2 linked regions of the Homo sapiens genome follow. Changing the gene in region 2 together with the main gene of any one other region gives a genetic interaction. Each region holds a gene or a part of one and is shown on either strand. Other genes may lie near its edges.

Region 1 (3,814 bases), on a different chromosome or scaffold from region 2:
TGCAGGGGCATGACTGAAAATTTAATTAAGGCCCTTCTCAATATAAAGTCTGTAAAGGAGATGAGGGCACATCTCAAGGTCAGAAGAAGGCGGGAGACTTGGGAAAGATTCAAATGAGATACGACAGCATAAATAGCAGAGGTAGGCTCTGGAGATCAGCTTCCTTATGATAGATGGTTATTACCGCGTCTTTTGGGTCCTACGTGAAATGTCTCTGTAGAAAAGATTAACACATGCATGTCAAAAAAAAATGCCACCTTGTGTGTGGGGGACAGAGGGGGGCACATTTTCATAGTGTTTTGTGGTTTTCAAGGCCGTGTCAGATGTAATCCTGGACACAAAGTAAAGCACCTGCTTTTCTTGATTTGGAAACTGAGACTCTGGGAGGCTAAGTGAACTCTACAAGTTCTATTTTTTTTTTTTTTTTTTTTGAGATGGAGTCTCACTCTGTCGCCCAGGCCACAGTGCAATGGCGCGATCTTAGCTCACTGCAACCCTCCACCTCCCGGGTTCAAGCGATTCTCCTGCCTCAGCCTCCTGAGTAGCTGGGATTACAGGTGCACACTATCACGCTCAGCTAATTTTTGTATTTTTAGTAGAGACGGGGTTTCACCATGTTGGTCAGGCTGGTCTCAAACTCCTCTCCTCGTGATCCACCCGCCTCGGCCTCCCAAAGTGCTGGAATTACAGGCATGAGTCACCGCGCCCGGCCCACAAGTTCTATTATGGGTGGTTTTGTGCAAGGGGGCTGGGGTACCAACAGGAAGCAAAATCTCCCAACATGCAGGCCACGGATCTTTCAACTCACAAGACCTTTGAAAGAACATTTGTCAGACTGCCAAGTTTAGGTATGGATTGTGGCTCATCCACTAAGTCTCTGTGACCATGAAGAAGTCGTTTCCCCTCTTCTGATTCTCATCCTAAACTGAATATGACAGTGCCGCCCTAGCTGGCAGAAGGTGGGTGGCGAGGAGGAAGAGAGAGACAAGCATGAGCTGAGTCACTCTGCTCTCTGCACTCGTCTGAGTCTGTCCTTGCAAATCACCAGATAGGACTGGTGGGCACCATCACGATTTCACTGATGGGAACAGCAGTCACATTACAGGAGAGGATACATACATGGAATCTAAAAAAAAATGATTTCCAAATAAGACTGGAAAACCTCTTCAATCTCCCAAAAATATAGTAATGAAAATGACTGAAGAGGCAACATGAATTCTAAAAGATCATCCCACTGCCTTTTTCTTTTTACTCCCTAAGGGATGGAACTTCCTCATGATGCTTTGGATTCTTTTTCTGAAAAGACACCCCACTTTTTGGTGACCCTGCATGCTTCTAATGTTTTTCTCATGCCTGCCTATAAAGGTTTTCTATTTGGGTTCAGAGTCAATAATAATAACAAGCAACAGTAAAGAAACAGCAGGCATTGTTTGTTGAGGGCCTATGATATACACTGTTGCTGAGCCCTTTCTAGCAACCATCCATAATCCATACAACTACCAGGTGATGTCAGCATTACCTTCTCTATGTTACAGATAAGAAAACTAAGCCTCAGAGAAGTTTAGTGACTTGGCCAAAGAAGGCCATCTTTATAACGGCAGGGCTGGGATTTAAACCATTGTATGACTGATTCCAAAGCCTGTTTTTTCTGTTCCTATTGCATTATGAGGCCTCTAGTCAGTTTACAAAACGCATCAAAGACTCTGGGCAATGCTTCTCGTTCGTGATTTCCTCCCATCACTATCCCGCAGAATGGAATACCTTCCAGGTGGTCAGAAAGCTCTCCCATTGAAATCCCAGCTGCAGGGTAAGTAGGGTGGATATGAAGTGGGCTGGGCAGATGGAATGGCAAAGAGACCCCACATGCTTTCCCCCTGTACCAAAAGAATTGTGATTTCACTTCCACATCACTAACCTGGTGAGGCACAAGCCCAAGAGAGGTTGGAGGCTCATTCATCCGATCGTCACTGCTGCTGGCAATGGCATAGCCCCTGAGGACAGGAAACAATCAGAGCTGCTCATTTAATCCAAGTTTAACACATGGGAGGATGATCTAGCAGAAATCTACATAAGATTCATAAGGATAACTAAAATGCCCCTTGCTGGGCAGTGTAAGTTAGCAAAAAACTAATTTCCCTGGGACAAAGGGCAAGAAGAGTAATTTAAACATGCATGGTTTGGAGTCAGAAAGACCTGAGCTTGTGACCATAGGCAAGTTGCTTAACTTTTCTGTGCTTCAGATCCATCATCTATAAAGTAGGAATGAGGGAGCTCTGATTAATAAATGAGGAATCTACTACATCAACTGCCGAGTGCAATGTTCGGCATATCAGAGGCCAATAAACATTAACTCACTTACTATGAAATAGTCTTGTCAAACATCACAGCACATTTCTGTACTGAAAATTTGAAGTGGAAAATTTTCTAACCTTAACTTCTTGAGCTGATATAAATGCTAATGAAATGGAAGAAATAAAAGTGAAGAATGAATTGGGCAGAACTAATACACTACTCTCTGAACAATGGAGTGATACTTGTGGCACCAAAAAGATGTGACACAGGACCTGGTGTTTAAACTATGACCAGGGCAAATGTGGCAGACAGAGGCTCAGTGTCAAGGAAGCATAAAGTCAGCTCTCAAAGATTTTATCCCAAATACTTCCTGTCAGAGAGTGGCAATAAACTTAAATGACAGATAGCTAAGGTGGATGACAAAGAGGAAGACAAAAAAGCCCCGCTTTTCATTTATCTCAGAGTACCCATACTAGTTACATATACAACCACAATTTTCAACTGCTGAGGAAAGCTTTGAGTCACACAAGAAATAGAATATTCATGTTAATTTGCATATTGACTTTCTGAGAACTGGAAAAATAAATCTTTCAAAAATTCGATTTTCTGCTGCCTGTATTGCAAACAGCATAACAAAGTCATTAAACATAGTCTGGAGCCACACTGGTTGAGCTAAACCCTGGCTTTTCCATTTACTATGTAAATTTGGCCACTTACTTATCCTCACTATGCCTTGATTTCCCCATCAAAACTGCGACTAATAATAATAGTTCTTTCCTAATATGTTTGCTATGAAGATTAAAGGAGGCCGGGTGCAATGGCTCACGCCTGTAATCCCAACACTTTGGGAGGATAAGGTGGGTGAATCACTTCTGATCACTGAGGTCAGAGGTTCAAGACTAGCCTGACCAACATGGCAAAACCCCATCTCTACTAAAAATACAAAAATCAGCCGGGCATGGTGGCGTATGCCTGTAATTCCAGCTACTTGGGAGGCTGAGGCAGGAGAATCACTTGAACCTAGAAGGCAGAGGTTGCAGTGAGCCAAAATCGTGCCATTACACTCCAGCCTGGGCAACAAGAGCGAAATTCCGTCTCGTTAAAAAAAAAAAAAAAGATTGAAGGAGGCAAAATTTCTAAGGTGCTTAGAACAGTGCCTAGCACAAAGTAAGCCCTATATAAGCGTTGGAAAAATAAAATAAACCATAGTGACTTTGTCCGGAAAGATGCAGAAATGTGGCCACAAAGGAAACATGCCAAGTTATCTCAGCCCAAAGAACCAGACCTGCTTTTTCTAGTCTTGTTTTTTTGAGGGTGAAATAGTGAAATTCTCTGTAAAGTCAGACTGAGAAAAGGCCATGGGAGACACTGATGAACAACTGCCTACAAAAGCTTTGTTTAAATACTCATCTCCTACTAGCAAACTCACCCTTCTGGATGCTGCAAAACAGATACCATCAATTCCACGGCCAGGGCTCCTGCAATCACGGCCAGTCCTGGACGACTCACAGTGCACTGCTGG
Region 2 (3,814 bases):
TTGTTCTCATTCTCCCTCCTTTTTTTTTTTTTTTTTGAGATGGAGTCTCACTCTGTCACCCAGGCTGGGGTGCAGTGGCGCGATCTTGGCTCACTGCAAGCTCCGCCTCCTGGGCTCATGCCATTCTCCTGCCTCAGCCTCCCGAGTAGCTGGGACTACAGATGCCTGCCATCAAGCCCGGCTAATTTTTTGAATTTTTAGTAGAGATGGAGTTTCACCGTGTTAGCCAGGATGATCTCAATCTCCTGACCTCGTGATCTGCCCCCCTCGGCCTCCCAAAGCGCTGGGATTACAGACGTGAGCCACCGCACCCGGCCTCTCTCTCCTTCTTAATGCACAGCTAACAAATTCATCTTTCAAACAAGCACTTCTCAAATGTTAACGTGCATTATATGGGAATCTTGTTAAAACACAGACTCTGGGCCGGGTGCGGTGGCTCAGGCCTGTAATCCCAGCACTTTGAGAGGCCGAGGTGGGCGGATCACGAGGTCAGGAGATCGAGACCATCCTGGCTAACAAGGTGAAACCCCGTCTCTACTAAAAATACAAAAAAATTAGCCAGGTGTGGTGGCGGGCACCTGTAGTCCCAGCTACTCGGGAGGCTGAGGCAGGAGAATAGCGTGAACCCGGGAGGCAGAGCTTGCAGTGAGCCGAGATGGTGCCACTGCACTCCAGCCTGGGCGACAGAGAGCGAGACTCCGTCTCAAAAAAAAAAAAAAAAACAGACTCCGATTCACTAGGTTTGGGGTGAGACTCAAGATTCTGTATTTCCAACAAGCTCCCAGGTAATGCTGGTGTTCCCAGTCCATAGGCCACACTTTGAGTAAAAAGGTTATAAATAATAAGAACTTAAAATTAACCTTACTTTGAGAGTATCTCATCATTTCTGAAATGTCTAGAGATACCTGAGGGTAACTGTGGCTACTCAAAACCTGTAAGACCCTCGCACAAAGAGAAAATTGCTCTCTAAGTCCTTCCTGATAATTAAGCAAATGTGTCTTTGAGCAAGTAACTTCTTATTTCTAGGCCTCAGGCTCCTCATCTGAATGAGGAGGTAGGTCAATGGTCCCCAATTTTCTTCTGGAATCCGCAGCCCACTGCAGGGCGGGATTCAAAACCCAGTCATCCTCACCTGACTTCCCCATAATTATTAGGCCCAAAGCCTCAATCTCCACTTTAAGAAATCCCCTGACTTTAGTTACAGGAGGGTTACTGTTGGGCACCTACTGCTAGGCCTCGTGGGGGAAGGCAGGGAGGGAGGGTGACAGGGCTGCGAGCTATACCTGTCCCGCTGGAGGAGGTCTGCGTGAGGTCTGTGCTGCTGTCACGGGAGGGAGACGCTTGCTGTGGGGCCTGGTGCACTTGAATGGCCTGCACTGGGACCTGCTGGGCCACTGCCCCACCTGCAAGACACAGAGTCTTATTTGTGCTCTGTCCCACCCAATTGCCACCTCCACCAAGTACCCATGGACACCCCAGTCCCAGGGTCTGGCACACTGGTCTCCAACTCCCATCACTATCTTTCCTGGAAGCCAAAGAGGCCCTTCAGGCCCAAGTATCCACTCTGGGGGCTTCCACGCTCTACTCTTGCCCATCCCTCCTCCTCCTGCCCTGGGCCTTGTCTCTCTTTTCTTCAGTTGACCCAAGAGCTGGCAATAACCCATCAAAGACATGATCTGCCTTCCAGTCAAGGCAGGAAGTGGTGAAACATCTACTGCCCTGTGGCAATGAGGGCACGGGGCTGGGGTAGCTAGACAGGGCCAGAATATATGGTTGAAACTTACTGACAAGGACAGCAGGGGTCTCAGTGGGCAGAGGTATGCCTGCCAACGGGATATAAGAGGCTTCGCTCAGGCTCTGGCCCCTATTCACCTTCCTTCTGAGCAGGGAAAGAGGTTCTCTTGGTGCCAGCCCTAAACACACTCTTAGCATGCTTGATTTGCCCCAGGAAGGACGAATCTCTCCCTGCCCCTCGTGACTCACCAGGCATGAGGGTGAAGCTGGTAGGCAGCTGCATAAGGCCCCCAGAGGAGACAGGGCCGCTGCCTGTACTCTTCAGCACAGTCCCATTGGCACTGCTGACAGCACTGGGGCTGACACTAGCAGACACTGGTGCCAGGTAGTTGGTGATGGGAAAGGAGGGGCCGCTGCTGACTTGCATGGTGGTAGAGGTGCTAGGTGCTGTTTGGATGGTGGAGGTTGTACCCGGCAGGTTGGTGACTGTGAACGCCGGCTTCAGTGTGTCCTATACCCAGAGTAAAGATGAAGCAATGAGCCCCTACCAGATCCTGCCTTTGCAGAAGCTTTGTGTGGACTGAGAACCCAGACTGAAACCAGTGAGCTTGGGTTCAAATCCCAACGCCACCATTTACCTGATGCCTGACTCTTAGGTAAGTTATTGATCTACTGAGCTACAGTTTTCTATCGGTAAAAGGAGGATAATACCTACCCCCTAGGTTGCTGTAAGGATTAAGTAGGTTAGCATATGTAAATCACTTAGAAAACACTACCTGGCACATAAAAAAACCAAAATAAATATTTGCTGCTCTTATGATAATTATTATCATTGTCATTATTATAATCCCCTGAGTTCTCTGCTCCAGCGGACTGTGGTAATCCCATTGGCTGGGGAGTCAGGACACCAAGGTCTGTTCCTAGCTCTGGTAATGACCATCTAAGTGACCCTGAAATAACCAGTCCCCTTTTCTGAACCTCGGTTTTCCTCTTCTATAAGCATGAGGGGGCTGGGCTACTACGTTTTCTTTCAAAGAGTTCTTCCAGCTCTAATTTGTCAGGCTTCTGAGATAGGAACTGAGTTTCTCAGGGAACTTAAGAGTTTGAGAGAGATCTTGAGAATCTGGCAATGACACACTATATGTCAAACACCCAAGATGTAAACTACCAAAAGAATGTACTCATCCAACAAAATTTCCTGGGAATAAATGAGCCCTACTGTTATAAAAGTTTAAAAATTATTACAGATGATATGCCACTAAGAGAGGAGGTAGCCTACAGCACTGACTCTCCCCTAAGGAAGACTTCGTTCTTAGAAGGGGAAGAAGGAAACTGAGAACCAAGCCACCAAGCCCAGACCCGAAATGAGTCAACCAGAGGCTCAAAGGCTGCGGGGTGGGTCAGCACGAGACGTTTGCAAAGCAGCTGGGCCCAAGACCCTTGATTGGCAGAGGCGTTGCTAAGGCAAACAGTGCCGCTTCCTCCCATTGGCCAGTCAGTTAAGTGCCACCCGGAAGGTGGAGCTCCCCAGACAGCAAGGGAGGAAGCCCCACCCCCTCTCCTTACCGGGAAAAGGAAGGGGGAGGAGTAACAGCGCAGGCATCCCTAGCAGCAGGCAAATGCGCTCCCTAACTGCCCAGGCCCCCAACACCCTGAAAGGGCAGCGGCTGGCTTGTAAGGTAGTCCCCGGCCCAGTCAACCAGCCCGCCTGCCAAGAGTGCTGGATTCCCAGGACCCCGGGACCGGAGTGCTCCCTTTCTACTCCCTGGCGACCCAGCCCGGAGGGCCGGGCTAAACTACACCCCCGCCCCTAGCGGGGAGACAGCTGGCGGGAGGAATGCAAAGGCCCTGCCAGGCAGGCGGGCTGCGGGCGGGAGGCCGGCGTGGAGCCCAAGCCGGCCTTATATGGGCACGGAGGCCGCCCGCTTATCTAGGGGGGCGGTCTTCTATCAGGAAAGTGAGGATGGACACCTGTCCCCTAGGACGAGGGTCGTTAATCCGGCTCCACTCCACATCGGTGGGCACCTATCCACCTGTCCTGGGCCAGAAAGGGAGAGGGACCCCACTCCCTTCCCTCCTC

The links.
Region 1: of SRF (region 2) and ATG7, changing one enhances a phenotype caused by changing the other (phenotypic enhancement), as found in Homo sapiens cells (one large-scale study listed by BioGRID).

Annotation. Positions count from the first base shown.
Region 1 is NC_000003.12:11,362,836-11,366,649, reverse strand, and holds part of ATG7 (ubiquitin-like modifier-activating enzyme ATG7), read right to left. Parts: coding exon 3,722-3,814; intron 1,992-3,721; coding exon 1,916-1,991; intron 1-1,915. UniProt on the Homo sapiens protein: E1-like activating enzyme involved in the 2 ubiquitin-like systems required for cytoplasm to vacuole transport (Cvt) and autophagy.
Region 2 is NC_000006.12:43,174,137-43,177,950, reverse strand, and holds part of SRF (serum response factor), read right to left. Parts: intron 2,246-3,814; coding exon 1,984-2,245; intron 1,404-1,983; coding exon 1,284-1,403; intron 1-1,283. UniProt on the Homo sapiens protein: SRF is a transcription factor that binds to the serum response element (SRE), a short sequence of dyad symmetry located 300 bp to the 5' of the site of transcription initiation of some genes (such as FOS).